2 separate regions of the Homo sapiens genome follow, and region 1 is linked to region 2. Evidence: fine-mapped expression QTL. A gene starts in region 2. The other region holds a variant in brackets. All regions are shown on one strand. Distances are from middle to middle.

The links. PIP is the estimated chance that this variant, and not a neighbour inherited with it, causes the effect. A credible set is the group of variants that fine-mapping cannot tell apart.
Region 1: its variant is the best candidate, but not a certain one, in a credible set for the expression of PRDX3 in whole blood (TOPMed, PIP 0.65).

Annotation. Positions count from the first base shown.
Region 1 is chr10:119,126,573-119,142,874 of GRCh38, reverse strand. It overlaps DENND10 (DENN domain containing 10), which reads right to left. Exons shown (of 9, transcript NM_207009.4): 7 at 13,253-13,360; 8 at 10,266-10,360; 9 at 4,891-6,404. The coding sequence ends at 6,228. SFXN4 (sideroflexin 4) reads left to right here. Exons shown (of 14, transcript NM_213649.2): 14 at 1,556-2,108. The coding sequence ends at 1,633. Among named protein-coding and RNA genes, the nearest start is that of DENND10, 31 kb to the right of the region's middle. RefSeq lists an enhancer at 1-428. The variant G/A (reference allele first, on the strand shown) is at 8,478.
Region 2 is chr10:119,174,617-119,188,188 of GRCh38, reverse strand. PRDX3 (peroxiredoxin 3) reads left to right here and starts at 9,377. Exons shown (of 7, transcript NM_006793.5): 1 at 9,377-9,434; 2 at 11,036-11,168. The coding sequence starts at 9,399. RefSeq lists enhancers at 4,571-5,316, 9,375-9,854, 9,854-10,498 and a silencer at 9,235-9,344.

The DNA.
Region 1 (16,302 bases), 47 kb after region 2:
CTGTAATCCCAGCTACTCGAGAGGCTGAGGCAGGAGAATGGTGTGAACCCTGGAGGCAGAGCTTGCGGTGAGCCGAGATCGCGCCACTGCACTCCAGTCTGGGCGACAGAGCAAGACTCCATATCAAAAAAAAAAAAAAAAAAAAAAATTCAAAACATTAGCTGGACGTGGTGGCGGGTGCCTGTAGTCCCAGCTACTCGGGAGGTTGAGGCAGGAGAATGGCGTGAACCCCAGAGGCGGAGCTTGCAGTGAGCCGAGGTCGCGCCACTGCACTCCAGCCTGGGTGACAGAGTGAGACTCCATCTCATTTAAAAAAAAAAAAAAAAAAGACACAAAATATCCTGTTGGCTCAAGGAGGGCATGGAGGTGCTTAGATGAGATAAGGAGTTATTACTAATTTTGTTAGGTGTGACAATGACATAGTAGTTTTGTAACTACTGTCATTACTATATCAAGTACTATATCAATAATGATAAGGTCTTTATCATTTGGAACTTGTAGGTGACATGACATGAGAATTGCCTTAAAATACTCAAGGAAAAAAATCCTACTGCTGGGTGTGGGAGGTGCTTGATGAAATGAGATCTGCAAATTGTTAATAGTGATTCCTGAGTGAGCACATGTGAGTTCATTACATTCCTTCTACATTTGTTTTTTGTTTGTTTGTGTGTTTGAGACAGGGTTTCTCACTCTGTTGCCCAGGCTGGAGGGCAGTGGTATGATCATGGCTTACTGCAGCCTTGACTCCCAGGCTCAAGTGATCCTCTGACCTCAGCCCCCCAAGTAGCTGGGACTACAGGAACGTACTACCACACCTGGCTAATTTTTTATTTTTTGTAGAGATAGGGTCCCACTATATTGCCCAGGCTGATTGCAAACTCCCCACCTCAAGCAATCCTCCTGATCTCGGCTCACTGTAACCTCCACCTCCCAGGTTCAAGTGATTCTCGTGCCTCAGCCACTGGAGTAGCTGGGATTACAGGTGTGTGCCACCACACCCAGCTAATTTTTGTATTTTTTGTACCATGTTAGCCGGGCTAGTCTTGAACTCCTGGCCTCAAGTGATCTACCTGCCTCAGCCTCCCTAAGTGTTGGGATTACAGGCATGAGCCATTGTGCCCAGCCATCTTAAAACTTTTTAATGGAAACTTTCAATTATAAACAAATGTAGAGATAAGTAAATAACAATAATGGGCCAAGGATGGTGGTGCGCGCCTGTAATCCCAATCCCAGCTACTCGGGTGGCTGAGGCATGAGAATGACTTGAACTTGGAGGGTGGAGGTTGCAGTGACCTGAGATGGTGCCACTGCACTCCAGCCTGCGCAACAGAGCAAGACTCTGTCTCAAAAAAAAAAAAAAAAAAAAAGTTTAAGAAGTTTCTTTACTGCTTGGGTGATTAAAAAAAAAAATAGGTTACATTTTCTGCTATAGATTAGACATTATTGAAAAAGATGGACTGTGAAATGGTTGCTTTCAGAAAATGATTTTTTTAACTTGGCTTCTAAGGCAAGAAAAACTATTAATAGAAACATTATGAATTTAACTATTTTTCAGATACAGTACTGTAGTCTTGAAGAGAAAATTCAGTCTCCAACAGAAGAAACAGAAATCTTTTATCACAGAGGGGTGTAGGCGTGAGTTTTAGGTGAATTTATGTGGTTCCTGCTTGAAAACCTTCCCCTCTCCAGGTTCGGTTTAGAGAACTTTGCCACAGGTCTTCTGGGGACCCCAGAGGTGTCTGTGCTGACAAGGCGACTTCAGATTCCATACTGAGATCGTTCCCAGGCTGGCGTCTCTGGGGTTTTTAAGGCTGGCTGGAGAAGACAGTGGGAGGGTGCCCCGTCTGACACCCCTGGGGTTGCTGAGGGAACGGTTGGAGTGGGGATCGGCCTGCGAAAGGATACTGTGAAATCACTAATTAACTAATAAACCTGTCTCAAGTTGAGGATTTGAAGAAAGAACACAGAGTCCACCGTGCCCAGGACACAGGTGTTAAATGGATAGGCCGTCTCAAGCGGAACACGTACCCCTGGGGCGCTGTTTACGCCCTCCAACCCCAAAAGCAATCTTGTTTCCTTACTCAGTGTCCTCCATTCTAGACAGCTACTTAAAACCTTTGCCGCCCTCCGCCCAGTGCCTCCTTTCTCCTCTCTGGCAAAGGACCCTGCCTCCTCCGCCAGGAAACAGGTCAGCAGTGGAGCCCCCCACACCCGCACCCACACCCATCCTTCCTCCGTGTAATGCCAGCGTCCTCCAGGCTCTGGGCCTCTCTCTGCTTCCTCAGGGCTGTGCTCTGTAGCCTCTGTCTGCCAGGTCCTTCCCAGAAGTATGTAAACTACTTGTCGGCCAGGCGCGGTGGCTCACGCCTGTAATCCCAGCACTTTGGGAGGCTGAGGCCAGTGGATCGCCTGAGGTCAGTGGATCGCCTGAGGTCAGTGGATCACCTGAGGTCAGGAGTTCGAGACCAGCCTGGCCAACATGGTAAAACCCCGTGTCTACTAAAAATATAAAAATCAGCCAGGCGTGGTGTTGCGCACCTGTAGTCCAAGCCACTCAGGAGGCTGAGGCAGGAGAATCACTTGAACCCTGGTGGCGGAGGTTGCAGTGAGCTGACGTCATGCCATTGCACTCCAGCCTAGGCAATAGAACGACTGTGTCTCAAAAAGAAATAAACTGCTTGTCACCTGCCTCATTAGAGACAGGATCTTGCTGTCACCCAGGTTGGAGTGCACTGGCACAATCAGCTCACTGCAGCCTTGAACTCCTGGGCTCAATGAGGACCCACCTGCCTCAGCCTCCTGAGTGGCTGGGACTACAGGCGCCTGTCACCACGCCTGGCTGTAGCCAGACACTTTAAAAGAGTTGTCCGCCCTCACTGTCTCCACCCCACCTCCCGTTCTGCTAAGATTTCTCTCATCCGTGACCCACCTGAATGTGGCACTGCCACACTGCTGGGCACTCAGGCTGGTCACTGAGCTGCTTACTTGGCTGTACTTTGCCATTTGGATGTCCCAGACACCTCAAACTCAACCCATCCGAACCTGAGATCAGCTCTCCCTCCCAGTCTCAGGAATTGACACCACCACCTCCCCAGGTGCACCAGACAGGATCACTGGAGGCGCCCTCTCCCCACCTTACCAGCCTATGCAGTAGACAGGGCCCAGTACATGGAGTCTGGAACCCACATATGCCCACTGCTACCACCCAGCGCAGTCCAACAGCATCCCCTGCTGGCACTGCCTGGCCCATCTCCTGCCTACTCCCTCCGGTCCACGTTCCAGCCTGCTCTTCTAAACCACACCTGCTGAACAACTGTTTTTTTTTCTTTTGAGACGGAGTCTCACTCTGTCACCCAGGCTGGAGTGTAGAGTGCAGTGGCGCGATCTTGGCTCACTGCAACCTCCACCTCCTGGGTTCAAGTGATTCTTGTGCCTCAGCCTCCTGAGTAGCTGGGACTACAGGCATGTACCAGCCACCACGTCCAGCTAATTTTTGTTTTGCTTTTTTTAAGTAGAGATGGGGTTTCACCATGTTGGCCAGGCTGTCATCTCCTGTCCCCGCGATCCACCCACCTTGGCCTCTTTAAGTGCTGGGATTACAGGCCTGAGCACCGCACCGGGCCTGAAAAGCCTTAAATGGCTTCCCAGTGCGTCAAGATCAAGCCCACCTTCCTCACCACAGCAAGCCTTTCCCATACTCGTATCCTGCCACTCCCTCCCCTCCCTGTAGACCCTCCAGGTCCTCACATGGGCTGTGGTCTCTTCTCAGGGCCTTCACACAGCTGTTTCCTCTGGTCTGAGTAGATGTCTACTTAATGCTTCAGGCCTGACTTTGACATTGATCACTCCCTCTGGGAGGCCTTCCAGGATTGACAGCACTGAACTGGGTCCCCATCTATGTGCTCCAATACCACTCTGTTTCACACATCACGCCTAGCACTAGCCACACTACAGCAGCCTGTTTGCTGACCCTATTCCCCAAGCGGACTGTGCGCAGCACCGCGAGAGCGGGAGCTGCTGCCCATCAGGGTAGTTCAAAATACAACACAGGCATGGCACAGAGTAGGTACCTCAACATTTGAGTACTGGACTAATGCTTCCAACACACCCTACCCCACATTACCAAAGAATTTATCTGTGGTTTTGTTTCCCCAAGGCCAGTATGATGGTTCATTTCCAAATTTGGTGAGGAAAGTTTCATAACAGCCTAAAAGGACAAAATCAGTAAATGGCTCAGTTTGACCATAGGCTGACACTAACCAAAATTAAAGTTAGAGAACAAGATGGGCAACAGCTGCAGGTGGAGGTTTAACCGCTAACAGATGACAGAAATGTGAAGGCATCTTCCAAGGACAGGAGACTGAAGTTACAGAGGCAGCTCCAGGAAGGCGAGTGGAGGAGGGCTAGGGCGGGAGGAAAGGGTGTGTGGGGGACGGCTTGAACTTTTTTTTTTTTTTTTTTTTGAAACCAAGTCTCGCTCTTTTGTCCAGGCTGGAGTGCAATGGTGCAGTCTCGGCTCACTGCAACCTCCGCCTCCCTGGTTCGAGCAATTCTCCTGCCTCAGCCTCCCAAATAGCAAGTAGCTGGGATTACGGGCATGTGCCACCACACCCAGCTAATTTTTGTACTTTTAGTAGAGATGGGGTTTTACCACGTTGGCCAGGCTAGTCTCAAACTCCTGATCTCAGGTGATCCGCCCACCTCGGCCTCCCAAAGTGCTGGCATTACAGGCATGAGCCACCGCGCCCTTGGCCGTCTTGAACTTTCAGACAGGTCTTTTAATAATTCCCTAGCGCCCTCACAGTTGAAAAAAGGTATTTTTTCCCCATTTTCTTTGGAATGAGCAGTATTAGAGAAAGAGGGGACAATTCGTCACCCACCTAAAAGTAGTTGAATATCAAAATATATCAATTTTATTTCTGCATCATAAATTTATAATTTTAACAACTTTGATCATTAGCTAATATAGTAATACAAAAAAATGAGAAAAAAGATGTTAATATTCCTCATTTCCATAAAGTGCAGATTTAATTTTCAATTATTTGCCTTAGTAAACATTGTCTTATTTCAGGTACTCCCTGCCCTCACTCAAAAAAAAGGGAGGGTGTTTAATTTTTATTGAACAAATATGTAATACCAAGAAAAAGATGAAAGACCCAATAATGTTTTTTGCAAACATGTTTCCAGGTAAGATTTCCAAGGACATCAGTACTGAGTGAAAAATAATCCTTTACAGTCAATATGAATGAATACACTAACAAGTACATCATTTAGATCTCCATGCTTATTTGGCAATTCCAGTTATGAAAAAGGTACATAAATAGTACAAACAATTGGCTTGACATGTGGCCAAACTACTTTCATCGAAGTTGCTGGAAGCCTTTCTCTGGTTTTGGCCCCTGTAGGAAGTTAATCTCATATTCCCTTAGCAATAATATAAGGTCACTGTTTCAGTCCTACACACTTTTATATTCAATGGGCTTCTTAGTTTATCACATAAGGACTGGCACTTTTTTCAAAAGAATATTGCTAACAGGGTTAAATGAGTGCTAATGGCTGAACGTTTGCCAAATGCTTACTTCTGCGATAGTATAAATATGGATTATTAAAGTTGTCTACTCAAGTATAAAATATATGCAAAACTCTCATAGGCAAAATGTTCAAAGGCCGGGAAAAACCTTTTTTTTTTTTTTTTTTTTTTAACTTTTACGAGAAAGTGCAACTGCAGGGTCTCTTGAATGATCTTCTAGACAGTTCCGCAGAAAATTAGCAGTTTGGCTCAGAAAGTAGAGTTCCTCAGGAGGAATTAAAGTTCTTCCTAGAAGAATACAAAGCAACGTTTCAGGCAGCTTTCTGAAAATAAACCATTAGCTTATGCCTACACAGCGAGACAAACTGGAACGTGTAATAATGAAGGCTTTCACATTTGTTGTGATGTGCTTTTTTTCTCTTACCCCAGGACCTCTAGCTGTTCTGTAATGTTACATAAAGTAGTTATAGCACTTCGTCCAGCACTGACAGCAGGCAGGAAGCTAATCAGCGAGGAGAAAATCGGAAGTGTGTTCATGTGTTTCATTGTTTTTCAGGTCAAATCTCAATACTTGCAAATAAATCATTAAAAAGATATAACAGTTTCTCTGTTATTTTCAGGACTTCATGTAGTGAGTGGGTAATCAGAGTGAAAGAGGGCTTTCTATCAGTCATCAGTGATACGTTCTGTCACACAGTCAGATTTTCAGCATTTGTTCGGCTGCTGCTAGATGATAAAGGAAGTTTTCTGTTGCTGGTGGAAATCGTTTTTGCTTTAGCGCCTCCAAATTAAGGACTCTCTTTTCTCCATCAGCCGAAACTTCTGAAAACGGTGCTAGGTTGGTAAAGATTTCTCTTGTTTTTAGAGCAATATCCTTTAATAGAACAGGAAAATATATGCAACATGTTAGTATCCGAAATTTGAATATTTAGTCTCTAGAATTCTTCCTATTTTTTCCAGACTGTTTATAAACTATGAAAAATGAGCTTGGCGTGGTGGCTCATGCCTGTAATCCCAGCACTTTGGGAGACCGTGGCAGGAGAATGTCTTGAGTCAGGAGTTAGAGAATGCAGTGAGCCATGATTGCACCACTGCACTCCAGCCTGGGCAACCCTGTCTCAAAAACGAACAACAAAAAAGATAACTCCTTTTTTTGTTGTTGTTTTCGAGACAGGGTCTCGCTCTGTTACCCAGGTTGCAGTGCAGTGGTTCAATCATGGCTCACTGCAGCCTCGACCTCCCAGGCTCAAGTGATCTACCCACCTCAGCCTCCTGAGTAGCTGGGACTACAGGCATGCGCCACCACACCCAGCTAATTTTTAAATACTTTTTGTAGAGATGGGGTTTCACCATGTTGCCCAGGCTGGTCTCAAACTCCTGGGCTCAAGCAATCTGCCCACCTTGGCTTCCCAAACTGCTGGGATTATAGATCTGAGCCACTGCATCTGGCCTGATAATTCTTTTTAAAGAAAAAATTAGGAAAAATGAAACAAAATTAACTTAGAAAAATCATAGTGTGTGGTTTTGGTTTTTTTTTTTTTTTTTTTTTTTTTACAATTTTAGTCATTTTCTGAGTGTATAATTCAGTGGCATTAAGTACATTTGCAGCGTTGCACAACCATCACCACTATTTCCAGCACGTTTCACCATCACAAACAGAAACTCTACCCATTACACAATAACCCCATTTCCCCTCGCTTAGCCCCTGGGAACCTCTATTCTGCCGTCTAACTCTGTGAATTTGTCTGCTCTAGATAGCTCATATAAGTGGAATCATACAACATTTACCCTTTAGTGTCTGGCTTATTTCATTAGCATGGTTTCAAGGTTCATCCATGCTATAGCATGTATCAGAATTCTATTCCTTTTCTCCCCCCCAACAAAAGCCACATTCAAAACATTCCATTCCTTTTTAAGCTGAGTAATATTCTACTGTATATAAAGACTACATTTTGCTTGCCCATTCATCTGCTGAAGGACACTGGGTTGCTTCTGCCACGTTTTGGCTACTGTGAGTAACACTGCTATGGATATTTCCATACGAGTACAGTCATGCACCACATAATGACGTTTTGGTCAACCAGGGACCACATTTACAATGGTAGTCCCATAAGATGATAATGCTATATTTTTACAGTATCGTTTCTTTTCTTTTTCTTTTTTTTTTTTTTTTTTTTTTTTGAGACAGTTTTGCTCTTGTTGCCCAGGCTGGAGTGCAATGGCACAATCTCGGCTCGCTGCAACCCCCGCCTCCCGGGTTGAAGCGATTCTCCTGCCTCGGCTTCCCAAGTCGCTGGGATTAACAGGCGCCCACCACCACACCCGGCTAATTTTTGTATTTTTAGTAGAGATGGGTTTCACCATGTTGGCCAGGCTGGTCTTGAACTCCTGACCTCAGGTGATCCGCCCGCCTCGGCCTCCCAAAGTGCTGGGATTACATGCATGAGCCACCGGGCCTGGCCGAGTCCCTGCTTTCAATTATTTTGGGTATATACCCAGAAACAGCATTGCTAAATCATATGGTAACTTGATGTTTAACTTTTTGAGAAATGCTGCTATTGTTTTTTTGAAGGAATCTCTTCCCAAAAGTCCTCTTCTGCCTGGGATAAGTAACCCGGCACCTGCCACGCAGGCTTTATTCCTTTTGGGTGGCTGAGGACTCACTAAAGCACTCATTAAAATCATGTCTTCTGGCCAGGCATGGTGGCTCACGCCTGTAATCTCAGCACTTTGGGAGGCCGAGGCAGGTGGATCATTTGAGGTCAGAAGTTCAAGACCAGCCTGACCAACATGGTGAAACCCTGCCTCTACTAAAAATACAAAAAAATTAGCCAGGCATGGTGGTGCATGCCTATGGTCCCAGCTACTCGGGAGGCTGAGGCAGGAGAATCGCTTGAACCTGGGAGGCAGAGGTTGCAGTGAGCCAAGATCACGCCACTGCACTCCC[G/A]CCTAGGCAACAGAGCGAGACTCTGTCTCCAAAAAAAAAAAAAAAAATCATGTCTTCTGGCCAGGCGTGGTGGCTCATGCCTGTAATCCCCAGCACTCTGGGAGGCTGAGGTAGGCGGAGCACTTGAGGTCAGGAGTTCAAGATCAGCCTGGTCAGCGTGGTGAAACCCCATCTCTACTAAAAATGCAAGATTAGTCAGGTGTGGTGGCAGGCCCCTGTAATCCCAGTGCCTGCTACGTGGGAGGCTGAGGCAGGAGAATCGTTTGAACCCACGTGGTGGAGGTTGCAGTGAGCCAAGATTGCACCACTGCACTCCACCCTGGGCGACAGTGAAACTCAAAAAAGGGAAAAAAAAGTCACGTCTTCTTCCTTGTTTGCTGACATCATTAATTCATTCATGTATTTTTGAACCCTTACAGCATTCCCAGCACTTTCACTTGCCCTCCCCAAGGTCTCATACGTCATACTAAGTCATCTAGGTAGCACTTTTAGTCTGTGAACAACACAGTAATGCAAAACTCAGATTCACATATGTTGCTGATATTGTAAGAATATGTCTTTACTCTAATGTTGGGGGTAGGTGGGCAGTGAGGATTCCCATGGTAGGAAAGAAGCGGCCCCAGAGTCTCCAGTGTTCAGGTCCTCAGGGCAAGATCAGCCCACTCTTCCTGCTCACAGCTGGCCAGGCCACCAGCACTGCAGAGAAATGGCCCCTCTCATCTTTCCGCTGACATGTCACCTCCTTAGAGATCTGGCCTACCCATCCCCCAATATTCTCCACCTCAACCCCTTCTGTCACAGCACCTAACATGGGCTGTAATTATCTTGTCATTTATTATTTTCTGTGCATCTACTCCACTAAATTACAGACTCCATGAGGGCAGGGATTTGCTCACCACTGCATCCCCACTGCCAGTGCAATGCCTAACAAACAGAGCTCAAGAAACACTGAGTAAATGAATGGATAAATGAAGAAGGCATCAGGTTGGGCCGAATGAGTAAAGCCTGCATATCAGAGGTGCCCCCGTACCCCCAGGTAGGACAGGTGCAGATGGGAGACAGTCCTTCTGGGCCCTCCAGCCCCAGGTTATGAGTCAGGCATCTAGATAAGGCAACGCTGGAAGTGTATCCTTCAGGAGAGGAGCAAGGAGCTGGGAACAGGCCAAATGCAAGGAGCTGGGCGGGCTGCAGGCCACCACGTGGAAAGCACAAGAAATAAAACCCATTTGCCATCCCAGTTTGGCAAGGGCAGAGCAGGTGCCCACTGGGCCACATGGACGCTGGTCAGCATGCCAGGTAGACACCAGCAAGGAGCTGGCTCTGCGGCATGTGGCAACAGTCACTAAGTGGGACAGGAGTCTGACTGCATGATTTCTGTTGTCCTGGAGACAAGCAAAGCAAAATTTTGACAATCTAGTTCCCCATGCTCAGCAACAACCTCCCCTTTATAATTTGTTCCTCCAGGGAAATTCTCCTAGGAAGAAAGAATGCACTGGCTGGCCCAGAAAAGCCTTCCAGACCACTTGGTAGTTACATTTCTCATTGCCAGCGGTCGGTGTCAGCACCAGCCCCTGTGTATACCTGCCCTCGAGCCCAGTAACTAACTAGATCAGGCCAGCCTGCACCTGCTTGTCCATCATCACTGTGGCCGTCTGTAAACCCTCTCTAAGCACCTGCCCGCTGGCCTCTACCACAGCCCCCCACTCTGCTTATGTGCACAGCTCTGCCGCACACCACCCAGCGACACCGGGTCAGGACTTTCAGTAAGTCAGAAGGTGAGGGAGTTACCTGTATAACGTGGCTCTCTGATTTCTCTGGATCTTCTGCAGACTGAACAATTAGCTGACCCATTTCTTTGTGCAGTTTGCCCATTGCCATGGCCTCTGGTGAGATCAAGAAGGTGAATATTTAGAAATCGACATAAAAAATAATCATGCCATCTATCTGAAAACTTGGAAGACCACACTGAGGGAATTTTCAAAAAGCAGCTGATAACCTCCCACATGTCCATTTTATCACTAGACACAAATATGACAACATGCTGGGAGGAAAGGCATAATATAATCGTGATTTATACTTCTGGGCAAACATAAAAACACATCACACCAAACCAGATTTCCCCTTCACACCCACCTGACCAAAATTTTTATTTTTCTTCCCAGACAAAGCATAATGAACAATTCTGACTACAACTAAGTCATGACTATAAGCCAAGAGTCTGACGTTCTAGTCCAGCTCTTTACAGTTAAGAAATGTATCTTTTTGGCGGGAATATTGTGAAAGAGGAGCTTCCTGTCAGTTCTGCAGAAGCCAGCTGGGCGCTCAATTCGTTTAGATTCTTAGAAATGAGCAAAGGAAACCACCTAAGTTAGCCTGGTTACATACATTGCTACTGTCTGCACTGAGGAGGTTAACAGAAACTTGTTTGTCACTTCAAGAGACAGACTCCATTCAACTGGTGCGGATTAGGATGAGCCCATTTTTATAGACACAGAGCAACACAGGGCAGCAGGAAGATGGCCACCCTTTCTGGTCCTAATGCTTCAGCTGCTTAAGTGGCCCTAGCCACAGCCAGTTTTCTTTCACTTTCGCTTTGCAAAAGGCAGTTATTTCGTAAAGATCTGACCCCATAGTTTGAATTTTTCATCATGAGCATGCATTATGTTTGCAATTTTAAAACGAATTAAAGGAAAGCCAGTTATGGTTCTATTAATTTGAATTTTTCAATAAAACCTCACATAATCGAATCTAACAATTCCCAATGAGTCAGCATTCAGCTGCCCCCACTTTTAGGAGAAAGATAAGTGACAAAACAAAGCTGTTAATCAGTAATCCCATCTAAAACCACTACCTGAGTAGTGCTCAACACGCATTTAAGCCAATCTTTTCTACTTTATGTAGCTGTAATTTGGGACAATTTATTTATTTATTTATTTATTTGAGACAGAGTCTTGCTTTGTCACCCAGGCTGGAGTGCAGTGGCGCGATCTCGGCTCACTGCAAGCTCTGCCTCCCGGGTTCAACTGATTCTCCTGCCTCAGCCTCCCGAGTAGCTGGGACTAGAGGCGCCTGCCACCACGCCCGGCTAATTTTTTGTATTTTTGGTAGAGACGGGGTTTCACCGTGTTAGCCAGGCTGGTCCCGATCTCCTGACCTCGTGATCCACCCGCCTTGGCCTCCCAAAGTGCTGGGATTACAGGCGTGAGCCACCATGGCCGGCCTAATTTGGAACAATTTAGAATGTCTAAGAATGCCACTCTAACACTAGTACACCCTTTCCTGATCATTAGCTCTAAGAACAGCTTCATTCCCTTATGCTTACTAAGACATGCTTCAAAAAGATTTTCCATACTGGAGTCACATTTAACCCTGTGTAGTGATAAACGCCTACATATTTTTTGATACTCCTTTCTTCAAGAGGTGGAGACATTCCTCTCTCAAGTGTTGACTAAACTTAGTGATTTGCTTCTAACAAATAGCATATGGAGGAAGTAATGGTGACTATCAAGGCAAGATTATAAAACGCACTGTGACTTCCTTTTCTCTCTCGGGTCACTCACTCCTGGGGAGCCAGCTGTCATATTGTAAGAACACTCAAGCAACCCTATGGAGAGGCCCATGGCAGAAGGAACTGAGGCCTCCTGCCAACAGCCATGCACATTGAAAGCGGATGTTCCAGCCCCAGTGGAGCCTTCAGATGACTGTGGCTCTGGGATATCGTGACTGAAACTTCCTGAGCCAAACTACCTCTACATAAGTCATTCCTGATCCGCCAAAACTGTGAGATAAATATGTGTTGTTTTAGAACATGATGGCTCACGCCTGTAACCCCAGCACTTTGAGAGGCTGAGGCCAGTGGATCACTTGAGGCTAGGAATTCGAGACCAGCCTGGCCGACATGGTGAAACCCTGTCTCAAGTAAAAATACAAAAATTAGGCCAGGCGCAGTGGCTCACATATGTAAGTAATCCCAGCACTTTGAGAGGCCAAGACAGGCAGATCATGAAGTCAGGAGTTCAAGACCAGCTGACCAACATGGTGAAACCCCATCACTAACTAAAAATACAAAATTAGCTGGGTGCGGTGGCGGGTGCCTGTAATCCCAGCTACTCGGGAAGCTGAGGCAGGAGAATCACTTGAACCTGGGAGGCGGAGGTTGCAGTGAGCCAAGATCGTGCCATTGCACTCCAGCCTGGGCATAAGACTCCATCTCAAAAAAAAAAAAATTAGCTGAGCATGGTGGTGCATGCCTGTAAACCCAACTACTCGGGAGGCTGAGACATGACAATCACCTGAACCCGGGAGGCATAGGCTGCAGTGAGCCAAAATCAGGCCACTGCACTCCAGCCTGGGAAATAGAGCAAGACTCTGCCAAAAAAAAAAAGAAGAAGAAAAGAAAAAGGAATATGTGTTGTTTTAAACCACTGAGTTCTGTATGACTCAGAAACATTTCAAAATTAAGAAAATAAACCGCTAAGTTCTGAAGTGATTTGTTATGTGGCAGTAGATAATACACCTTGTTTAAACACAAAAGTAGTGAAACAAGATGAACAGACTATTTAACTTCTTAATATACACTCTGCTGCATAAGCACCCGGGATGTTCTGCTAATATGTCTATGTTTATAGGAATAAATGTTGTGTTCTAGACACGGAAATATCCATCTTCAGCAGAGTTGGTAAGCCAGCCCTCACATACTGGTTTTAGAGAATCAGCCTAAAAATGTACAACTGTTTGGCTTATATCTTGTATCAAGAACAGAACAGAGAACAAACCTTTTGCAAGGGGAGCAATGGTAATCTCACTCTCTGCCAGATTCACAAACACATCATAGAGGTCTGGTCTGTTGCTCACCTCCAAGTCTACAAATCCAGCGACGTAACCTGCATCACAAACATGAGCAACCTTACTGGAGTAGGAAGAAATATGGTGAACCCATCAAAAGAATTGGGTCTAAAAGCTCATCGACTGCTCTCTTTCACTGCTTTATTCATTCGGGAACATTAGCTGTACCCTGTGGCAGTTAGTAAGACTACATTACTATCAGTTGCCTGAAGATATTCACACAACGCCAGATATTCCAAAATTATCCATCAGTGTCAAGGACAAGACTGAAGTAGGGCATTTACTTTCCAATCATTGCTCTTGGGGTCAAGAATGACAGCTGTGGCAGAAGGTAGCAAGGACTCTCTTGACTGATGTTCCCCCTTCAGGTCTTTGCCTTCAGGAAATCAATGGCAAATGCCTGGGTTCTCAGAGTGGAAATGGCATCATCTTTAAGGGTTCAGGGCAACTCAGGAATTAGCAGATCTCTGGGATTGGTGTTAGAACAATGATTCCCAGATTTTTTTGATTTCACAGAGCAATACAATTACCAAAAAAAAAAATTATTTGAGGAGAGACTGATATGGTTTGGATCTGTGTTCCCACCCAAATCTCATGTCGAACTGTAATCCTCAATGTTGGAGGTGGGGCCGGGTCGGAGGTGACTGGATCATGGGGGTGATTTCTTATGAGCGGTTTAGCACCATCCTCTTAGTGTGGTTCTCGTGATTGAGTTCTCACAAAATCTGGTTGTTTAAAAGTGGACGGCACCTTCCCCCACCTTTCTCCTGCTCCAGCCATGTAAGACGTGCCTGCTTCCCCTTCACCCTCTGCCATGATTGTAAGTTTCCTGAGGCCTCCACAGAAGCAGAAGCCACTATTCTTGCTGTACAGCCTGCAGAACTGTGAGCCAATTCAACTTCTTTTCTTTATAAATTATAGTCTCAGTTTTTTTGTTTTTTTTTTTTGAGACAGTCTCGCTCTGTCACCCAGGCCAGAGTGCAGTAGCATGATCTCGGCTCACCGCAACCTCCACCTCCCAGGTTCAAGAGATTCTCCTGCCCCAGCCTCCTGAGTAGCTGGGACTACAGGTGTGCGCCACCACGCCTGGCTAATTTTTGTATTTTGAGTAGAGACGGGGTTTCACCATATTGGCTAGACTGGTGTCGAACTCCTGACCTCGTGATCCGCCTGCCTCAGCCTTCCAAAGCGCTGGGATTACAGGCGTGAGCCACTGTGCCTGGCCTTTTTGTTTGTTTTTGAGACAGAGTCTTGCTCTGTTGCCCAGGCTGGAGGGCAGTGGCACGATCTTGGCTTACTGCAACCTTCACCTCCTGGGTTCAAGCAATTTTCCTGTCTCAGCCTTCTGAGTAGCTGGGACTACAGGCATATGCCACCACACCTGGCTAAGTTTTGTATGTTTAGTAAAGACAGGGTTTCACCATATTGGTCAGGCTGGTCTTGAACTCATGACCTCAGGTGATCCACCCACCTTAGCCTCCCAAAGTGCTGGGATTACAGGCATGAGCCATCCCACCCGGCCTTCAGTTATTTCTTTATAGCAGTGCAAGAACACACTAATACAGGACCAATTTATCATTCCTAGAGTTTTACTTTACCAAGCAAGGACAGTTAAAAAATAACAGGTGGGGGCAGTGGCTCCTGCCTGTAATCCCAGCACTTTGGAAAGCCGAGGTGGGAGGATCACTTGAGGCCAGGAGTTTGAGACTGTCCTGGCCAACATGATGAAACCCTGTCTCTACTAAAAATACAAAAATTAGCTGGTGGCCAGGCGCAGTGGCTCATGCCTGTAATCCTAGCCCTTTGGGAGGCTGAGGCGGGTGGATTGCTTGAGCTCAGGAGTTCGAGGCCTGCCTGGGCAACATGGCGAAACCCCATCTCTACTAAAAATAAAATAAAAAAAAAAATTAGCTGGGCATGGTGGCACATGCCTGTAGTCCCTGTTACTCGGGAGGCTGAGGCACAAGAATTGCTTGAACCTGGGAGATGGAAGTTGCAGTGAGCCAAGATCACGCCACTGCACTCCAGCCTGGGCAACAGAGCGAGACTCTGTCTCAAAAAAATAAAATAAAATAAGATAAAACAAAATAATTTAAAAAACAACAAAAACAAAACCTACTACTGAGAGCCAGACCCAGGCCCACCCATGAATGAGAAAATGTGACAGATGACAAGTAATATTACTCATTACTGAAAAAAGAAAGAGATTATTCAATAAATGTCCTGGTCCAAGTGGTTATCCATAGGGTAAAAAAGTTCAGTCAGATCCCAAACTCACACACTACACAAAAAATTATTCCAGATAAATTAATAACTTCACTGGGAAATAAAAAACATTAAAAATGTTTAGGCCAGGCACAGTAGCTCACACCTATAATCTCAGCACTTTGGGAGGCCAAGGCGGGAGGACTGTTGAGCTCAAGAGTTCGAGACCAGCCAGGGCAACATGGTGAAACCTTATCTCTACCAAAAAAAAAAATACAAAAATTAGCCAGGCATGGTGGCACGTGCCTGTAGTCCCAGCTACTTGGGAGGCTGGGGTAGAAGGATGGCTTAAGCCCAGGAAGTGGAGGTTGCAATGAGCCGAGACTGAGCCACTGCACTCCAGCCTGGGCGACAGAGCAAGACCCTGTCTCAAAAAAAAAAAAAAGAAAAGAAAAAGAGAAAGAAAAATTTTCATAAGAAAATGGCCAGGCACAGTGGCTCATGCCTATAATCCCAGAGCCCAGGAATTCAAGACAAGCCCAGGCAATAAAGCAAGACTTTGTCTCTAAAAAAAAATACAGACGGCTGGGCGCAGTGGCTCACGCCTGTAATCCCAGAACTTTGGGAGGTCAAGGCAGGTGGATCATCTGAGGTCAGGAGTTCGAGACCAGCCTGACCAATATGGTGAAACCCTGTCTCTACTAAAAATACAAAAATTAGCCAGGCATGGTGGTGGGTGCCTGCAGTTCCAGCTACTCAGGAGGCTGAGATAAGA
Region 2 (13,572 bases):
AAACAAAACAAAACAAAAAAACCTGGCATGGTGGCACGTGATTGTAATCCTAGCTACTCGAGACACTGAGGCACAAGAATTGCTTGAACTTGGGAGGCAGAGGTTGCAGTGAGCTGAGATCATGCCACTGCATTCCAGCCTGGACGACAGAACAAGACTCTGTTTAAAAAAAAAAAAAAGAAAGAAAGAAAGGAAAATGAACTTCATCACTTTGAGAAAAAATAAAATGTCTTCAGAGCCTGTGCCAGTTGTTTGAAAATGTAGTATGTCTGCTTGTGGGGAAAAGAATAACTTATTTATACCACTTTCTCTGTATCTAGCACCCCACTACATCTTTTGCAGGCATTATCTCACTGTGCATGGCTGAAGCGGTAGATGCCATCATTACCCTCATTTCACACCTGCAGAAACTGAGGTATAGAAACATTAACTGGTCTAGTCACGAGGGATTCTGTGATGCCTGAGACATATGACCTGCCCTCCAAGACCATAAGTGACAGACCAAGAATTTGATCCCATGTCCTGGTGGCCCCACAGCCTGTGCCATTACCATTAGAGCAGTGGTTTCCTCTGGGGGTTCTCTTGTCCCCAGGGGACATTTGGCAACATCTGGAAACATTTTTCGTTGTCACAAATAAGTGGGTGCCTTCCTTTCACAAGCTTGGCAGGAAGACAGGAACAGACAGACCCCAGAGAAGGAAAGGAAGGCTGAGAGTCGCCCGAACACAGTGGCTCATACCTGTAATCCCAGCACTTTGGGAGGCCAAGGCGGGCAGATCATTTGAAGTCAAGAGTTCAAGACCAGCCTGGCCATGTGCTGAAACACATTGAAAACCCTGTCTTTACTAAAAATACAAAAAAATTTGCCAGGCGTGGTGGCGGGCACTGTTATCCCAGCTACGCAGGAGGCTGAAGCAGGAGAATTGCTTGAACCTGGGAGACAGAAGTTGCAGTGAGCCGAGATGGTACCACTGCACTCCAGCCTGGGTGACAGAGTGAGACTCCGTCAGAAAAAAAAAAAGAAGGCTGAGAGTAGAGTGGGCCCCAAGGTGGTGAACATCAATTGCAGGGGCGGAACCTATTAGAAATGCTTAGGCAAAAGAGCACAGCGTACCGCATCAATGGACAGAATCCACAGTGAGGCCTGGTGCCTGGGAGTGGAGTACTTGAGATATTTCACTAAAGGACAGATGGTCAGTGCTCCTTCATGTCCTCACACAGCCCACATTTATAGTACCATCTCCTATTATGTCCCATCAAGCACATTATGCTCCAACAAATACTGTAGGAGGTCATACAATATTGCTTTAAGAGTTGGGGCACTTGGCCAGGCACGGTGGCTCACGCCTGTAATACCAGCACTTTGGGAGTCCAAGGTGAGTGGATCACGAGGTCAGGAGATGGAGACCATCCTGGCTAACACGGTGAAACCCCATCTCTACTAAAAATACAAAAAAATTAGCCAGGTGTGGTGGCGGGCGCCTGTAGTCCCAGCTACTCGGGAGGCTGAGGCAGGAGAATGGCGTGAACCCGGGAGGCGGAGCTTGCAGTGAGCTGAGATTGCGCCACCGCACTCCAGCCTGGGCGACAGGGCGAGACTCCATCTCAAAAAAAAAAAAAAAAAAAGAGTTGGGGCTCTGGCCTCACACCGGTAATCCCAACATTTTGGGAGGCCAAGGCAGGAGGACTGCTTGAGCCCAGGAGTTTGAGACCAACCTAGACAACATAGGAAGACCCTTCTCTACAAAAACTAACAAAATTAGCTGGGCTTGGTGATACACACTTGTGGTCCCAGCTCCTTGGGAGGCTGAGGTGGGAGGATTGTTTGAGCCCAGGAGGTTGAGGCTGCAGTGAGCCATGGTTGTGCCATTGCACTCCAGCCTGGATGACAGAGAGAGACCCTGTCTCAAAAACAAACAAACAAACAAAAAACAATAAAAATGAAAAGGAATGGGGGCTCTGCAGTCAGCTTTCAAGGTTTAAATCCTGGCTCCTTCCCTTTCCAGTTGTGGGACTTTGGACAAATTACTAAACCTTCCCAAGCATCAGTCTCCTCACCTTGGAAATGGGGATGATGAATTAAAAACAGTACCTGTGGCTGGGTGTGATGGCTCACACCTGTAATCCCTACACCTGGGGAGGCCGAGGCAGGCGGATCACTTGAGGTCAGGAGTTCGAGACCAACCTGGCCAACATGATGAAACCCCATCTCTACTAAAAATACAAAAATTAGCCAGGTGTGGTGGTGTGCACCTGTAATCCCAGCTACTTGGGAGGCTGAGGCAGGAGAATCACTTGAACCCAGGAGTGGAGTTTGCTGTGAGCTGAGATCATGCCATTGCACTTCAGCCTGAGTGACAGAGCAAGACTCTAAAACAAAACAAAACAAAACAAAACAAAAAACAAACCGAAAAAGCACCTGTGTCATAGGGTTGTGCAGACGGAATAGAGATACTGCATTCAACCCAGAGCGTAGCCCCATAGTGTGGTCACTGAAGATAACAGTAAACCAAAGGGACAAAGGTCACTAGTCACTTCCACCTGCCATCTTCCCCTTCACCTTCCCCAAGCAGCAGGATAGATGATTTCTCTGTGAAGCCCTTCTTGGCCCCTTTCTCTAAACCATGATAGCACTTCACTTGCACCTCTCTTTTATTTAATATAACGAACACTATGTGCCTGCTGACTGTGCTAATGCCTTTAAAATATGAACTCATTTATTCCTCACAAAAGCCCTTGGGGTAAGCACTAACATCATTTCAATTTTACAGATGGGAAAATGTGCTAAGTAACTTGCCCAAGGCCACGTGCCTGCAGCTAGCAGAGCTGGTGTGTCAATCTCAGCTGTCCACACTCAACCATTATGCCTCTTTCATGCCTCTTAAAATGCTGAATCTTGGACTGGGTTTTTTTTTTAATGATTTTATCAGTATTCCTTGGATACACACACAGTTCCTCGGCAGCAGGGTCTAAGTGATCCTCTCCAGTACATGTTTATTAATGATTAAAATCACATTGTTGGCTAGGGACGGTGGCTCATGCCTGTAATCCCAGCACTTTGGGAGGCCGAGGCGAGAGGATCACTTGAGGTCCGGAGTCCAAGACCAGCCTGGCCAACATGGCAAAACCTGGTCTCTACTAAAAATACAAAAATTAGCTAGTTGTGGTTGTGGGCACCTGTAATCCCAGCTACTCAGGAGGCTGAGGCAGAAGAATCTCTTGAACCCAGGAGGCAGAGGTTGCAGTGAGCCGAGATTGCACCACTGCACTCCAGCCTGGGCAACACAGCAAGATTCTAAAAAAAAAAAATCACATTGTTAATTGATCCAATACCAGAGGGCTCTCTATTTGGTACCTAATAGGACAGGAAACAGATTACTTCAGAGGCTAAAATGGGCAGGAATCATGCAGGAAATCTAACTGAAGGCAGCCGCAGGTGAATGGGGCTACATGGAAGACGGAAAGTAATGTTACCTTGAAGCAGCCAGGCACGGTGGCTCACACCTGTAATCCCAGCACTTTGGGAGGCCGAAGCGGGCCGATCACCTGCGGGCCAATCACCTGAGGTCAGGAGTTCGAGACCAGCCTGACCAACATGGCAAAACCCCATCTCCGCTAAAAACACAAAATTAGCTGGGCGTGGTGGTGCATGCCTGTAATCCCAGCTACTCAGGAGGCTGAGGTAGGAGAATCACTTGAACCTGGGAGGCAGAGGTTGCAGTGAGCCGAGATCGCACCATTGCACTTTAGCCTGGGCAACAAGAGCAAAACTCCGTCTCAAAAAAAAAAAAAAAAAAGAATTGCTTTCAGAGCCAATTATGAGGCCCTCAAGTAATGTTACCTTGAAGCCTAACCCTGCCTATGAGCTGGCACTAACTAATGCATCTGAGCTTTAAAACTGAAACCAGGATGAGTGAGGTGAAATTCTAAGGGAACTCCACTCTGCTCTGTCGCTTTGACTTGCACCATGCTTTACATTTTTATAGTGAAGTTTAGTTATGAGCCAAACTGCCTGTGTGCAGGAACTAAAAAACACACGCCTACAATAGGAGAGCAAGAGGCCCTCCAGCATGGGGAAGGGAGAGGTGGGCGGCAAAGGGCTGTGGGCATAAGGAGAAGAGAAGGCGACCCCTTGGCTTGGCTTTGCCCCCCTCCCCCCTCCCCTTTTGTTGACTTGAGCTACTGAAGCTTAAGTACTTTAAAACTGCAGGCTGTTGTGACAGTGGCTCATACCTGTAATCCCAGCACTTTGGGAGCTGGAGGATCACTTGAGGTCAGGAGTTCAAGGCCAGCCTGGGCAAGATAGCGAGACCTTGTTTCTACCAAAAAAACAACCCTGTAGTATGAGGGAGAAGAGGAGACGATGAGGGTGTGGATGACGTAATCTCACGAGTTGGCTGGGGAAAAGGTGCTGAGGCTGAACTCCATCAGACACACACGCTGGGTGGTCAGTGGTATGGAATTTCTGGGTTCTTGCCCTACCTCTCTGCTTCTAGCCAGTGATGTGATTTTGGGAAGGTCTCTCCATCTCCAAAAGGCTCAGTTTTCTGAGCCTTTTAGATCTATTAAATCACTGGAGTAGACTACAGTATATAATGTTTTTAGTCCCTATTTCTTCTACATTTTCTCTCTCTCTTTTTTTTTTCTTTTCCTTTTTCTTTTTCTTTCTTTTTTTTTTTTTTTTTTTTTGAGACAGGGTTTTGCTATGTTGCCCAGGCTGGTCTCAAACCCCTGGGCACAAAGTGATCCTCCTACCTTGGCTTTCCAAAGCGCTGCAATTACAGGCATGAGCCACCATGCCTGGCCTTTTTCTAATTTTTTTTTTAATTGAGGTGAAATTCACCAAATATAAAATTAATTATTTTAAAGTTTACAATTCGGGGTATTTAGTTAATTCATAATGTTATACCCACCTCTATCTAGTTCCAAAACATTTTCATCACCACAAAAGAAAATCCTGGACTTCCCTCTCCCTCTCCCTCTCCCTACTCTCCCTCTCCCCACGGTCTCCCTCTGATGCCGAGCCGAAGCTGGACGGTACTGCTGCCATCTCGGCTCACTGCAACCTCCCTGCCTGATTCTCCTGCCTCAGCCTGCCGAGTGCCTGCGATTGCAGGCGCGCCGCCACGCCTGACTGGTTTTCGTATTTTTTTGGTGGAGATGGGGTTTCGCTGTGTTGGCTGGGCTGGCCTCCAGCTCCTAACCGCGAGTGATCCGCCAGCCTCGGCCTCCGGAGGTGCCGGGATTGCAGACGGTGTCTGGTTCACTCAGTGCTCAATGGTGCCCAGGCTGGAGTGCAGTGGCGTGATCTCGGCTCGCTACAACCTCCACCTCCCAGCCGCCTGCCTTGGCCTCCCAAAGTGCCCAGAGTGCAGCCTCTGCCCGGCCGCCACCCCGTCTAGGAAGTGAGGAGCGTCTCTGCCTGGCCGCCCATCATCTGGGATGTGAGGAGCCCCTCTGCCTGGCTGCCCAGTCTGGAAAGTGAGGAGCGTCTCTGCCCGGCCGCCATCCCATCTAGGAAGTGAGGAGCGCCTCTTCCCGGCCGCCATCCCATCTAGGAAGTGAGGAGCGTCTCTGCCCGGCCGCCCATCGTCTGAGATGTGGGGAGTGCCTTTGCCCCACCGCCCCGTCTGGGATGTGAGGAGTGCCTCTGCCCGGTCGCGACCCCGTCTGGGAGGTGAGGAGCGTCTCTGCCCAGCCACCCCATCTGAGAAGGGAGGAGACCCTCCGCCTGGCAACCGCCCCGTCTGAGAAGTGAGGAGACCCTCTGCCCGGCAGCCGCCCCGTCTGAGAAGTGAGGAGCGTCTCCGCCCGGCAGCCGCCCTGTCCGGGAGGGAGGTGGGGGGTCAGCCCCCCACCCGGCCAGCCGCCCCGTCCGGGAGGTGAGGGGCGCCTCTGCCCAGCTGCCCCTACTGGGAAGTGAGGAGCCCCTCTGCCCGGCCAGCCGCTCCGTCCGGGAGGGAGGTGGGGGGTTCAGCCCCCCCGCCCGGCCAGCTGCCCCGTCCGGGAGGGAGGTGGGGGGTCAGCCCCCCGCCCGGCCAGCCGCCCCATCTGGGAGGTGAGGGGCGCCTCTGCCCGGCCGCCCCTACTGGGAAGTGAGGAGCCCCTCTGCCCGGCCAGCCGCCCCTTCCGGGAGGGAGGTGGGAGGGTCAGCCCCCCACCTGGCCAGTCGCCCAGTCCGGGAGGGAGGTGGGGGGGGGTCAGCCCCCCGCCCGGCCAGCCGCCCCGTCCGGGAGGGAGGTGGGGGGGGTCAGCCCCCCGCCCAGCCAGCCGCCTCGTCCGGGAGGTGAGGGGCGCCTCTGCCCGGCTGCCCCTACTGGGAAGTGAGGAGCCCCTCTGCCCGGCCACCACCCCGTCTGGGAGGTGTGCCCAACAGCTCATTGAGAACGGGCCACGATGACAATGGTGGTTTTGTGGAATAGAAAGCGGGGAAAGGTGGGGAAAAGATTGAGAAATCGGATGGTTGCCGTGTCTGTGTGGAAAGAAGTACACATGGGAGAATTTTCATTTTGTTCTGTACTAAGAAAGATTCTTCTGCCTTGGGATCCTGTTGATCTGTGACCTTACCCCCCAACCCTGTGCTCTCTGAAACATGTGCTGTGTCCACTCAGGGTTAAATGGATTAAGGGCGGTGCAAGATGTGCTTTGTTAAACAGATGCTTGAAGGCAGCATGCTCGTTAAGAGTCATCACCACTCCCTAATCTCAAGTACCCAGGGACACAAACACTGCAGAAGGCCTCAGGGTCCTCTGCCTAGGAAAACCAGAGACCTTTGTTTACTTGTTTATCTGCTGACCTTCCCTCCACTATTGTCCTATGACCCTGCCAAATCCCTCTCTGTGAGAAACACCCAAGAATGATCAATAAAAATAAAATTAAAAAAAAAAAAAAAAGAAAATCCTGTACCTACTAAATAGTTCCGGCTGGGCGCACTGGCTCACACCTGTAATCCCAGCGCTGTGGGAGGCCAAGGCAGGCAGATCACTTGAGGTCAAGAGTTCGAGATCAGCCTGGCCAACATGGCGAAACTCCGTCTCTACTAAAAAATACAAAAAAAAATTAGCTGGGCATGGTGGTCACACCTGTAGTCCCAGCTACTCGGGAGACTGAGGCAGGAGGATTGCTTGAATCTGGGAGGCAGAGGTTGCAGTGAGCTGAGGTTGCAGTGAGCTGAGATTGCATCACTGTACTCCATCCTGGGCAACAGAGGGAGACTCTGTCTCAAAAATAAATAAATAAAATAAAAAATAAATAGTCAGTCCCCATGCCAGCTTCTCCCAGTCCCTAACAATTGCTGATTTGCTTTCTGTCCCTTTGGAATTACCTATTTTAGATGTTTCATATAAAAGGAAACACACACTATTTGTTCTTTTGTGTCTGGCTTCTTTCACTTAGCTAGTGTTTTCAAAGTTCATCTGTGTTGTAGCATATATCAGTATTTCATTCCTTTTATGGATAAATAATATTCCATTGTGAACTACAGTATTTTTTTTTTTTTTTTTGAGACGGAGTTTCAATCTTGTTGCTGAGGCTGGAGTGCACTGGTTCAATTTCGGCTCACTGCAACCTCTGCCTCCCAGGTTAAAGTGATTCTCCTGCCTCAGCCTCCCAAGTGGCTGAGATTACAGGTATGCACCACCATGCCCAGCTAATTTTGCAATTTTTAGTAGAGAAAGGGTTTCACCATGTTGGTCAGGCTGGTCTTGAACTCCTTACCTCAGGTGATCCACTCACCTCAGCTTCCCAAAGTGCTGGGATTACAGATGTGAGCCACTGCGCCCGGCCTACAGTACGATTTTGAGCTCCAAAATGATTGTCTCCTTTTCAATCATCTGCTAAACACAGACATAATTAAAACCAATTAAACAAACACAAGGAAGGTGTGAGGTGAAATAGTCGAAACGTGTGTCCCCACACATCCAAGGCAGTCCTTTCCACATCTGGGGACTGGTACCCAGGGTGGCGCCTAGTGGTACCTGAGATGATTTTAGAAAATATACTGGGCTGGGTGTGGTGGCTCACGCCTGTAATCCCAGCACTTTGGGAGGCCAAGGTGGGAGGATCACCTGATGTCAGGAGTTCAAGACCAGCCTAGCCAATATGGTGAAACCCCATCTCTACTAAAAATACTAAAAAAATTAGCCGGGTTTAGTGGTGCACGCCTGTAATCCCAGCTACTCGAGAGGCTGAGCCAGAAGAATCGCTCGAACCAAGGAGGTAGAGGTTGCAGTGAGCCGAGATTGTGCCACTGCACTCTAGCCTGGACGACAGAGTGAGACTCTGTCTCAAAAAAGAAAAGGAAAAAAAAAAAAGAAAGCCAATTTAAAGAAAATAGTAAGTGATATTTGGTGATAAGAAGACTTGAGAAACGAAGTTGCTAATTGAATGACTAGTGATTGGAAAATACCAACTCAGACCGGGTGCAGTGGCTCATGCCTATCATCCCAGCACTTTGGGAGGCCGAGGTGGGCGGATCACTTGAGGTCAGGAGTTTGAGACCAGCCTGGCCAACATGGTGAAACCCCATCTCTACTTAAAATACAAAAACTTAACTGGGCATGGTGGCAGGCGGCTGTAATCCCAGCTGCTCAGGAATCCCAATTACTCATGAAGCTCAGGCAGGAGAATCGCTTGAACCCGGGAGGCAGAGGTTGCAGTGAGCCAAGATCATGCCACTGCACTCCAGCCTGGGCGACAGAGCAAGACCCAGTCTCAAAAAAAAAAAAAAAGAAAAGAAAAGAAAAGAGAAAAGAAAATACCAGCTCCAAGACTGCAATTTGTCACACTTACTGTAAGGCCACGGTGTGATTTTTATCTATGTTTGATGTGGTTGCTTCAAGTACTATGCTCACCACTGAACACTTGGCTTCATTAATAGACAAAAACCAAATTTTAAATTTGTCCCAGTTTTCCCAATTTTGGGAAGAGAGGCCAAATGTTAGACCACACACAATTCCAGCGGATTTCAGGCCAACAAAGCCTTGATGTGTCTAGCCCACTTAGCTTATTAACGGACTAAAACTGCATTTGTAATTAATTCCATTTCATACAGAAGCCGGAAGTCTCTACCTGAGGCTGAAATAAGAAAGGGATCCTGTCACAGAAATACTAGACACAGTAATCCACACAAGGTTAACAAAACAGTGGGAAATATGGAAACAAATACCTAATGCCCCGCCTGGATTCGTTCTTTTAAGGTTGGGGCGACAGTAGGAAAACCACGTGTCACTTGCCCAAGCATTCAGCCTTAAAGGGAATTTCTCCCTCAGGGTCTCCAGGAGGCGGGGAGGCGGTGGCTCCTCCGGCCCCGCCCCCCCACCAGCAGAGGGCCCGCTCACCACCCCGTAGGCCCCGCCCCTGCGTCTCTGCCCGCCCCGTGGCGCCCGAGTGCACTGAAGATGGCGGCTGCTGTAGGACGGTTGCTCCGAGCGTCGGTGAGTGGCTGTCGGCTGGGGACAGGCGTGGAGACACTGGTGGCTCCGGGAACGTGCTTCTCAGACAGGACCCCGCGCTTCTGGGCATGAGGGCCATTCGCCCTTCTTGGAGGGTTTCCGCGGGTAACGGACCCAGAGGCCTCCCTCCGGGAAGGTTCCATGCGCCTGCGCAGAACCGCCCTTCCCCACTCCATCCTCGCGGTCTCTTCCCCGAGTCCCTCCTCTTTCGGCGTCCCCGGTCCCCAGGCCCATCTCCACTTAAGGTCCTGGCCCTGATTCTGCCACCGACCCTGTGATCTTGGGCAAGCGCCTTCGCCTTTCTCAGACTGTGTACTTAAGATGGAAAGAATGATGCCTACATCAAGGCGTTGCTGTGAACAGCCCCTTAAATACTGGATAAAAACGCGCAAAGTGCTAAAAAACTCACAAAGGCTTTCCCTCCCAATCCCACTCCCGCGTGTTTCTGCTGCTGTTTCCTGCTTAACTGTGGGCAATGCGTCGTGCTCTTTTGGTACACGGCTTTCTCTGGTGGGGTTCAACACAGCCCCTTTCGTTCTCCTGAGTCATTTTGAACATTAAAGTTGAGCAAACCGGCAGAGTGCGGTGGCTCACGCCTGTAATCCTAGCACTTTGGGAGGCCGAGGCGGGCAGATCACTTGAGCCCAGGAGTTTGAGACCAGCCTGGACAATAATAGTGAGACCTTGTCTCTAAAAAAAAAAATAGCCGGGCATGGTGGTCAGTGCTCCTGGGGAGGCTAAGGTGGGAGGATCACTTGAGCCCAGGAGGTCGAGACTGCAGCGAGCCGAGATCGCGCCACTGCACTCTAGCCTGGGTAAAAGAGCGAGACTCTGTTTCAAAAAAAAAAAAAAAAAGTTGAGTAAACATGTCCCTTGAGCCTTTAACAGACTCCCAGAGGCTGAATTTGGCTCTTCTTGTTTACTTGTCGCTGGTGCTGGAGGGGCCTTGTTTTTCTAAGGAAAACCTTGAAATGGTAGAACATACTCAGCAGATAGTGCTGGGAAAAGCCTGCACAAGTCCCCTGGCTTCTGAACCCTGTGTTGCTTTAAGCGCATGGAGTTTCTGATTTTTTTTTTTTTTTTTTTTGAGACGGAGTTGTCGCCCAGGTTAGAGTGCAATGGCGCGATCTCGGCTCTGCAACCTCTGCCTCCCGGGTTCAAGCAATTCTCCTGCCTCAGCCTCCCAAGCAGCTGGAATTACAGGTGCCCGCCACCGCCGCCTGGCTAAGTTTTGTGTTTTTAGTAGAGATGGAGTTTCACCATCTTGGCCAGGCTGGTCTCGAACTCCTGACCTGGTGATCAACCCGTCTTGGCCTCCCAAAGTGCTGGGATTACAGGTGTGAGCAACCGCGCCCAGCCGGTCTTTGTGTTCTTATAGTTCCTCTCCACCTTCCAGTCTCCTAGGAGAAGGAAGCAGAAGGGAGTGTTAAGAACATGCAGATCCAATCCATGCTCTTAGAGTTTGGGGTTTGCTATTTGGTTCACAGGAACAGGGACAGCTGAAACCACCGTTGGCACGATGCCCTTTCAGCCTTCAGTCACCAGTCCAGGAAAACTTTCTAATAAAAAGTTTCTCTTTCCAGGTTGCCCGACATGTGAGTGCCATTCCTTGGGGCATTTCTGCCACTGCAGCCCTCAGGCCTGCTGCATGTGGAAGAACGAGCTTGACAAATTTATTGTGTTCTGGTTCCAGTCAAGCAAAATTATTCAGCACCAGTAAGTGTTATGTCATGTCTTGGCTGGAGCCAGGTAAAGGAAAAATGAACCATCGTCTCTGGACAGGGGCTCTGAACCCTGGCCAAACGTTAGAGTCACCTGGGAGCTTTCAGGAACACAGCACTGCCCCCGTCCCACCCCAGACAAGTTAGTCTGTGGGGTGAGACCAGGATGTGCCGGGTGATTCTAACGTGCAGCCAGGGTTGAGAATCACTGAGGCAAACTGCCCTTGTCACATTTCCATGTTGGTTGTCAGAGTTTCTAATCCACTGTGTTGAGGAGGGTGTTACTGGGAGCTCAGATGCCTTCTGAGTCTAGTGTGTCTGAAGAGCTGTGAGTGGTGGGCAGCCTGTGGGGGACCTGAGAGGGCAGCTGCTCTAAGATTCAAACCTGTGTAATGGCCCCAGCTGGCCACTTAGGAACCAGACCTGTCTAATGGTATCTGTAATCTGAGCGAAATTTAGCTGTTTCTTGAGATTTACACTCCCTTCTCTAGGATATGGGCTTTGCTAAGATCAGCCTCAGATAATGAGTGGTATTTGAAAATACCTTGTCTAGATTTGACTAGCCTTTGAAAAAGCCCGTATTTAATATGTAATGGTTTGTGGGGATATACTTTAGTAAAGCCTTTGTTTGTGGGCAAAATGTTCTAAGAGCTTTCGCAATTTTACTACCCTGGAGCTTCAAAATATTTCTAGTAGTGATGTGATACCACAGGCTTAAAACTTTACTCCACTGGTTTCGAATCCTCATCCCCAGCAGCGCCTCCTGTTTCTGTTCATGGCGGTGTCAGGCATTTTGACATTGGAACTACTCTGTCGCTCATTCCTGGGTAGAAGCAAGTCCTTTTCAGTTTTGACACATCTCTTGCATCCATTCCTTTCTGTTCTTTCTGCCCCATACCTCCCCTCAATACGTCTAAGATCACTGAAATCGAGGCTGGGCACAGTGGCTCACACCTGTAATCCCAGCACTTTGAGAGGCCAAGGCAGGCGAATTACTTGAGGTCAGGAGTTCAAGACCATCCTGGCCAACCTGGTGAAATCCCGTCTCTACTAAAAATACTTAAAAAAAATAAGCCGGGTGTGGTGGTGTGCTACTGGAATCCCAGCTACTTGGGAGGCTGAGGCAGGAGAATTGCTTGAACCTGGGAGGCGGAGGTTGCAGTGAGCCGAGACCATGCCACTACACTCCAGCCTAGGTGACAGAGCGAAACTCTGTCTCAAAAAAAAAAAAATCACTGAAACCACCTCCTAACATGTCTCCCCCTTCCTCCTGCTCCTCTTTCCCTCCTGCCGGACTAATCTTCCTAAAAACCCCCATCTCAGCCAGGCACTGTGGCTCACGCCTGTAATCCCAGCACTTTGGGAGGCCGAGGCTGGCAGATCACGAGGTCAGGAGATGGAGACCATCCTGGCTAACACGGTGAAACCCCATCTCTACTAAAAATACAAAAAATTAGCCGGGCGGGGTGGCGGGCGCCTGTGGTCCCAGCTACTCGGGAGGCTGAGGCCGGAGAATGGCGTGAACCCAGGAGGCAGAGCTTGCAGTGAGCTGAGATTGTGCCACTGCACTCCAGCCTGGGCGAACAGAGCGAGACTCCGCCCTTGACTCTGTTATCTTTCCTGCTAAGAAGACCCAGCAGCCTAGTATTTAAGGACTGTTGCAACATGGCCTTCAACCATTCCTGCCTGCTGCCTGCTCTTCACTCCGTACCCTTAGACACTCTCTGTTCTCATTAGACTGCCACACGCTGCTCCACACACATGTCCTGTCTTCCTTCCTGCTGTTTCCTACATGCCATCTGCCCCATCCCATCTAGACTTGACAAAATCTGAACCATATTTAAAATCCATCTCTAGTCTCATGTCTTCCTTAATTCTATCCCTACTTTGTCTTCCTCTTTTTAGTTTCTGTAGCAGTTGGAATTGAATTTGTGCACAATCTAAAACTATAGAAGGAGAAATTACAGTTGGCCCTCTGTATCTGGATTCTGCATCTGTGGTTGGTTGAATCGAAAATATTGGGAGGGAAAAATGGATGGTTGTGTCTATACTGAACACAAAGTCTTTTTTTCTTGTCATTCCCTAAACAATACAGCTTAACGACTATTTACGTAGCATTTACGTCGTATTAGGTATTATGAGTAATCTAGAGATGATTTAAGTATACTGGAGGGTGTGTGTGGATTATATGCAAATCACCACTTTATGTAAGAGACTTGAGCATCTGTAGATTTCGATATCCTAGAACCAATCCCCCCACAGGTGGCAAAGGATGACTGTGCCTAAGATGTACAGTTGAACCGAATGTTTTGATTTATACTAAGCACTTTATACTACTAATTAATTATGAGAAGTTTAAATAAAATCATAGGTGCTTGACATAGCAAATGATGAACTCC